Linked DNA regions of Homo sapiens. The protein of the gene in region 1 purifies or fractionates together with the protein of each later gene. This does not show direct contact. Each region holds a gene or a part of one and is shown in the gene's direction. Other genes may lie near its edges. The genes, in order: NCAM2 and QDPR.

Region 1 (3,826 bases):
ATAGGAGAAAATGACATTAAGTGAGAAACTGACTAACTTAAGTGAATGCCAATACTATAATTAGCTAACAAGGCCTAATAGTTTACTTGTAACTCTCAATACAACCTTATTGTTGTACAGTAGTAAGACGCTTTTTTTTATTGTAGCAGAAATACTCCTTTAAAAGCCTCTAATTTCCACTGCAAGATTAATGTATAATGAAGTAAGGTTAGAATGTTATTGTGAAGTCTGAATTTAATTGTCAATGAAAGAAAATGCTGTAATTCTGTAACTTTTGCAATTATTTTTCCTTTGTGTTCAAAACTTGGTCACAGGCTTTGTAATCATAAATCTCAAGTGATAACTTCAGTTTCTGATTAACTGCATTTGCTGTTTGGATCTTTGTATATTCAAATTTCCAAACTGTTGTATGTATGGATTGCTTTCGTGAGAGTTTTTACATTTTTGAAACCACTTCCTTCTTCCTTTAAAAATTAAACAAGTATGATTAATAAGCATTTTTCCTGGATGTTCACATATGTAAGATAGAAGCACTGTTATACTAAAACCTAAAGTAAGAATAATGCTATTCATCTCTCTTGCAATGCAGTTCAAACGTACCACTTAGAACACTTACCTAAGCCAAAATCGTGAGGAAAGGAGGGGTGAATTGCCCAGTTGATCAGTTAAAGCAGTCATCTGCTTACAGTTATTCTCTTTGGTGAAGTGCTAGTAAGTCATTGTACATTACAGCAATGTACCTTCTAAAAATAGAGCACAGGTGTGTGAGTGTCTACTAGTTTGAAGATTACAGGAGAGAGCTCCACAAACTCATCTTCTGTCGGGGCTGTTACATGGCTCCAGCCTCTCTCGTATGCTTTTTCTATCTGCTGTGCTCTAATTCTTTGATATCAGCCTCTCTGTGCAAAGTTTCTATTAAATCGACTGGGTCTTCTTTTGCACTTGGGGAAGATGTAATGTAAAGGCTAATGTAAATTAATATCTTTATTGTCAGAGTAACCCAGAGGATTTCCCTCACTACTTCATATCAAAGGAGTTAGGCAGAGTATTTTCTCACTTTTAATGCAGAATCGGAGCCCATAGAGCAAGAAGGGAAGTTGGTGGGTCCCGAGAGTGTCAGATGAGTCTTTTCAATGACACAGGGAGCTAATTTTCTCCCCGAGGTACTGTCCTACTAGAGAAGCAATTAATGGAACAAAAGAACCTCATTCAGTACCAAAAGTTAGACTTCATATGATTTTGTAAATAGAATGGCCTTCTTTCAAAAATAGGACTAGTTTGCAATGAAACTGAGAAATGAGCTACAGAGATTGAGGCTAGTAACCAAGCTGAACAGTGTAATTTGTTTTTGCCTGTCCTCGTGTGGAAGCAGTGCAAATAGTAACAGGATCGACAATCTGAAGACTCTGGAACTGGTCCTCCTGCATTCTCTGTCTTTTAACATTTGGGAAATCATTGTAACTTATCTCTTTTCAGGGTCATCTCTCACAGCAATGAATTTTTGAGAGCATGAAGAAAAGTGCTCAATAACTATAGAGTGATTCTAAATTGCCCTATTTCCCCCCAAAATGAAATTAATCCCTTGAGTGTTGATATGTGCAAAATTAATTTAATAATTTGAATATACTTCTGAAGGGACTATCATTGTTTTTCAAATTTTGTTGTCCTAAATTTTAAATTTATTGTTCCCTTTATACAATCCCAATTAAACTGAGGATAGGCCTATTTAAAAGATTATAAATTTGTTTTAATTTTCCAAATTACATGATATGAGAACACTTTAAGATGCAACCAGTGCTTTTATGCTTTTATTAAATGTAAAATTCCTGCACTTTATAGAGCCAAGCTATCTCTAATTGTTCAACAAATAAAAGTGCTTCTCTCTGGTGCTCTTTTAAATATTTTAATAACTTTTAACAATTTACAGTTATAATAAGAGTACTAATCACAAATAGATATCAACATATTTCCTAGTTTTCTATGTTCACTTGTGCCACTAAGGATCCATCAAACATTACCAGACATTTTAGAAAGCTGTGAAGTAATGAAACATCTTGAATTTAAATCAAGATGTTTGAATTTAAATCATTAAGAAAGATAATGGGGAATTTTGAGAATATTTATAAGCATGGCAATCAAAACATTATAGTTTGAAGAATTTCAGGTCCATTGATCAAATCTTTCTTGGCTCCATTTGATTTATTACAACTCACAGGGATGAAGAAAATTCATTGGATTTGGAGTCAGAAGACCTAGGCTACTAAGAGTCTCTTAACCTTGAAGAAGCAACTTATGCTCTTAGAACCACTATTTGCTTATTTGAAAATTTGATATTATAAAATCTGGCCAGTTGACCTTGATGCTCGGCCATGAGGAGCAATTGTAACAATAAATATGTGTAGGCAGGCACCTTACCAAATGTCAACCCTACTATGCTAGGCTTTGTTTATATTTTTTAATAATGTGTATACAGATTAATTTGTGGCTTATAAACATTTATTTAGTTTTAAAAAATCATCATAAGCTGCTCTGTGATTAGAAAAAAATATCAAGGGGACAGAGATTACTTAAGTTATTGATAAGGGCGACTCATTCATCATTTATTCATTTATCTAACATTTACAGAATACCTGCCCTGTCCCAGACACCTCATTAGACAGCATTACTAGGAATGGTTGCGTAGATTGTGTGAAGAACAACTCCAGGGGGCGTCACTTATTGTCCTAGTGATGCAACACATATTTATTTTTACAATTTGCCAGCAGATGGCAGTAAAAGGTTTTGAGGAATGATGCGCTTTTTTTTGTATCATGAATCCTTTCTATGGACCAACATCAGGCTGGTGTTAAACACCAAGAGGCTTAGGATGGGCACATAATGAAGATAAATGACTTACTAAAGATCAAACAGAAAAGTAAAAAGGTTAGTTACTAGAGCTCCAGTCTCCAAACTCTTCAGTTCTCCTAACACCAAACTTGTTCATAGATTTTATTTAAATGAATCTAATATATCTTCAGCTCAAAGTAAAATATATTTAAATTCTGTGCCATTTTGTCAGATAATCAAATAACAAGCACTTTTTGAGGCCTTAAAATGAGAATATTATCAGCACCTTCTAACAGTACCGACCACTTGTGCGAAGTGCTTTCAGTCACCTTATAACTTATGATTACCAATGAGTCAAGAGACAATTAGCTTTGTTTTATGGATGAAGAAATTGAGGTACAGAAGAATGATCCGATTTGCCTATATCACTTATTTTTGTAGTTATCTGGAACTGGGAGTAGATTTTCCAACTTCCAGTTGCATACCTATTTTTGATATATTGTTGATTCATTTGTTTAAAAATTTGCATGTGTGTGGAAAATTCAATGTTGATAATTACAAAAACAAATAATATAAATTTAAAAAGCCAAATAAGCATGAGGGAGATATATAACTTGTTCAACAAAATATTATAAAATGACAAAATATGTCATATAATTAATTAAACACTAAGTAGTCTGAGTCCTTAGCGGTTTAGTGCCTAGAATGAGCTAAAATTGATTGTGTTTACTAACTGACAGGCTCTCTTATCATAATCCTCTATTAGCTTGTTATTATTACGATTATCGTTCCTTTATCCATGAGGGCCATGAGATACAGGGAGTTTAAATAACTAAGATTGTACTGCTTGGAAATGAGGGTTTGCATATGGGACATGTCCAAAGCCTAGCCTCTTACCAGGACATCACCTTGCCATTCAGTGAAACAGAAAGGGCTTCAATATAGTGAGAGTAAATGGAGAAGATTATTAATACAAGGAGAAAAAAAATGAGTGAACAAA
Region 2 (3,826 bases), on another chromosome or scaffold:
TTTATAAGCATGCTAATCCCCTCCTAAAGGCCCCCACTTGTCTCCTGCAGACCCCACCTCTTAATACTATTATGTTGCAGTTTGTGTTTTGTATGTGAGTTTGAGGGGGATACATTCAGACCATAGCAATACTTCCAGTTTTGGGTTCTCCTGGGCTGTCCAGAATGTTTGATTGGCTGGTTGGATGGGTCTGTCTTTTTTGCCTCTTTTTTTCCTCTCCCTTTCTTTTCTCCCTTCATTTCTTCCTTTAAAATTAGACTACACATTTTACTTTTTTATATGTAGTTCTGTCTTTCAAGTCATTATATGGGGTATGTATGTGTGAGAGAGAGAGAATATGGGAAACTGTTGGAGGTGTTTCTGTTGGTCATCGGGGGACTGTCCCCCATCAGCTGTCCCAGGCAGAGGCAGCTGCTTTGGAGGGAGGCTACTCCTTCTCGCTGGAAGGCTTCCAGCACCAGCAGGCTTGCCTCTTGCCTGTGGTCCTATAAAGGGATGCTGAGACTGTAGGGACTGCACTGATTGACTTTCTGGTTCCCTTTTAGTTGTGAGGTTCTGTGATTCTGTGACATGATTCCCACAGCTGTTTTGAATGATTCGAATGATTCCTGAGGCCTTGATGTTCTTGGGAGATTCATGCATATCTGAATTCTATATTATTCTGCCAAAAATCTTAAGGTTTTGTGGAAAATAGCCACATATTTAAAATTTTAGTATTTTAGTATTCTCATATTTAAAGGCATATAACTATCTTAAATCCTTAGAAATGAGTGTGCTGCATGTTAGGGAGTGAATAAAGACACAGCAACAAAGCAGTTTAATTCAGTGAAGACTCTTTTTTAAAAAGGCAAAATGTGGCTCCTTCTGTTTTGTTCTTATCTGCCTAAGTGGTGAGCCACAGCGCACCTTATTGAATTATGCTCAGATCTGGCCTTTGCTAGCGGGGACAGCTTCCTGCTCTCTCTCTGCTTATCTTTCTGTCTGATCTTTCCATGTAAATAGCACCCTCAGTGCCAGAGGCTCTAGGTTGTCCTGCTGTATGTTTGCGTTTTCCTGGCCAAGGGGGACTGGGCACCTGTTGTTAGAAAGGAGCGACATGAATGACGTGCTTATCTGTGTCCATTGCAGGGTTACCCTGGATACCCCGATGAACAGGAAATCAATGCCTGAGGCTGACTTCAGCTCCTGGACACCCTTAGAATTCCTAGTTGAGTGAGTATTACAGACATGTCCATGACTGAGCAGCTTCCAGCCCCTATTCTCTGCCTGCTGTGGTCCAGAGGACAAGTCTGTGTTCCCTGAGATCGTCAATCCGGGTGGTCTTGGGAGGTCTCTGGGACTCTGAGGATGCATTGCACATCAGACGGAATCTCAGAGTAGCTGGACTTGGAGACAGGCAGCACAGTGGCAGAATGGGTAGTGCCGACATGAATCCTGGCTCGCTCCCTCACCACCGGCCATGCTGAGCACATTATTGACCTGCTGAGGCCTCAGTTTCCCCACCTGTATCATGAGGTCCATCATGCTTGTTAGGATTAAACGTGATAGTGTGCGGCAAGCACTCAACACAGTGTCTGGCCATAACAAGTGCTCAGTGATCCCCAGCTGCAGTTTGTGTCCTTACTGCTGTGATGAGGAGACTCCATGGGGGAGGGGGACACCACGTAGATGGCCTGGGGGCACATATCTGAATCTGTGTCAAGCCACAGACCCACAGAAAGTGCCCTTTAATTTCCGAAATCCTTTTTGCCCATTTGTGAATATGGGTGGCATTTGAACGCTCATGGGACAGAGAGCTGAATTCCTCTTTTGTGTTTGTTTAGGTATCAGTTCCTCAAGCCCCTCTAGTTAGTAAGCATGTGTTCATCGAGCACCCACTATGGGCCAGGTGCTGCCCTCGGCTCTGGGGTCACGGTGAGGACAAAGATGGGATCCCTGCCCACAGGGAGCAGGGGTGCCGAGAGGGTCAAGGTGACAGCCTGACCCAGTAGTGCCTCTGTGTAAACTGCTTTGACGACTGTTTATAAGAGATGTTTGTGAAGTTAGCAGTGTGCTTCTGGCCTGATGTCACAATCTCATTTAAATTAAATCGGGAGAAATTTGGGACTTGCGTTTTATGTTTGAAATGTGTACTTACAGAACACTTTTTATGTCCCAGTCACCATTCTAAGCACTTCATAACTCTTATTTAATGCTCATAGCAAACTCTGAGGGAGGAGCTGTCATTTTTATTTAAGGCTTAGAGACTTGGAGGGATGGCAGGGGCTAAGTCACTCGCCTAAGGTCACACAGCACAGCCGGGATCTGACACAAGTGGTGTGGCTGCAGAACCTATGGTCTTAACTGGTGTGCTGACAGTTATTTCTGTCTATGCCAGGAATCATGCTTCATGCTTGATTTGCAGGAAAAAAATTGAAGTTGTAGAGGAAATCAAGCTTTGAATTGTGTTTGTGTTTGAATTTCTTTTTAAAGGCCGACACTCCCACCACACTTGAGATACTGATCTAAGACCTACTCTAGATGGAACATCTGGGATCTTGTGTCTGAACTCGTGCTGAGCCACAGACCCACAGAGGACGGGCTGTCACAGGCCCCCTTTTGTTCTAGAGATCACATCCACCCATTTGTGGTATTTGAAAACTCTCAGAAAAGCTGGCATAAAGTTTGCTTTGAGATGTCTGTGAGCACATCCTTCCTCTACCATCCCTGGTTAGAATGGCGTTCTCACTCACCTATCCACGCTGCAGATGAGGGTGAAGAAGTAAAACCATTTAAAACATGCATCGCAGCAAACCAACATGGCACATGCATACCTGTGTAGCAAACCTGCACGCTGTGCACATGTAGCCTAGATCTTAAAGTATAAAAAAACAAAACAACAAAAAAACATGTGTAACCAACACACAAAACCCTACACAACCAAACGGCACTGGTCTCTTTCAGAGCCTTCCCTCACCAAGCCCTACCCTGTCCCCAGAGATGAGGCCATGACATGACAGTACTTTAGAGAGTTTTAGCAACGCTTTGTTTTTTGAGCCCATGTGCTCATATGAGCTTGTTCAAACCCCAGAGTAGGGGCCTGAATGACTGGACCTTTACACATCAGCGCTGGCCCAGAAGGTTACAGATTGGCACTGGGAGTCTCCCAGGAAGGAAATGCTGAGCACTTTTTAGTTAATGAAGGTCCGAAGTCTCAGCTGGTGAATTGTCAAAATGGATGATGTACTCAAATGTAAATGTTTTGTGTTAAAGAATTATCATCTACTTCTTGTTTCTTGTGAATTTCTTTTGCCCTTTTTCATTCCTGTCTTCTTAGAGGGTCTTTTTGACTGCTGCAAGTGGGGTCAGTTGCTCCTCTCCTCAGATTTGTGAAAGGCCCTGTTACTGTATTTAACATTTTATTGTAATAGTCTGTTTTTTTCTATCTCTTTTTCCATTGTTTGGTGCAGCTGTGGGTACTCTATAAATGTTTGATTAAAAAAATGCCAAATAAATGAATTGCATCTGTTTCTCTCATAAATTTATGAGAAGGTAATATAGCAAAGTATTGTGCATGTGTCTCTCTCTTTGAATGAACTAATTAAAATCTTTAAAAACAATTTTTTTTTTTTTTGAGACAGGGTCTCACTGGGTCACCCAGGCTGGAGTGCAGTGTCACGATCATGGCTTACCCTAGCCTTGATCTCCGGGGCTCAAGCAATCATCCCACCACAGCCTCCTGAGTAGCTGGGACTACAGGCATGTGCCATGCCCAGCTATTTTTTGTATTTTTTTAGAGGTAGGGTTTCACCCAGTTGCCCAGGCTGGTCTCAAAAACTCCTGGGCT

The links.
Region 2: the proteins of NCAM2 (region 1) and QDPR fractionate together in Homo sapiens (co-fractionation; one large-scale study listed by BioGRID). This does not show direct contact.

Annotation. Positions count from the first base shown.
Region 1 is NC_000021.9:21,001,166-21,004,991, forward strand, and holds part of NCAM2 (neural cell adhesion molecule 2 isoform 2 precursor), read left to right. Parts: intron 1-3,826. UniProt on the Homo sapiens protein: May play important roles in selective fasciculation and zone-to-zone projection of the primary olfactory axons.
Region 2 is NC_000004.12:17,488,048-17,491,873, reverse strand, and holds part of QDPR (dihydropteridine reductase), read left to right. Parts: intron 1-1,128; coding exon 1,129-1,212; intron 1,213-3,826. UniProt on the Homo sapiens protein: Catalyzes the conversion of quinonoid dihydrobiopterin into tetrahydrobiopterin.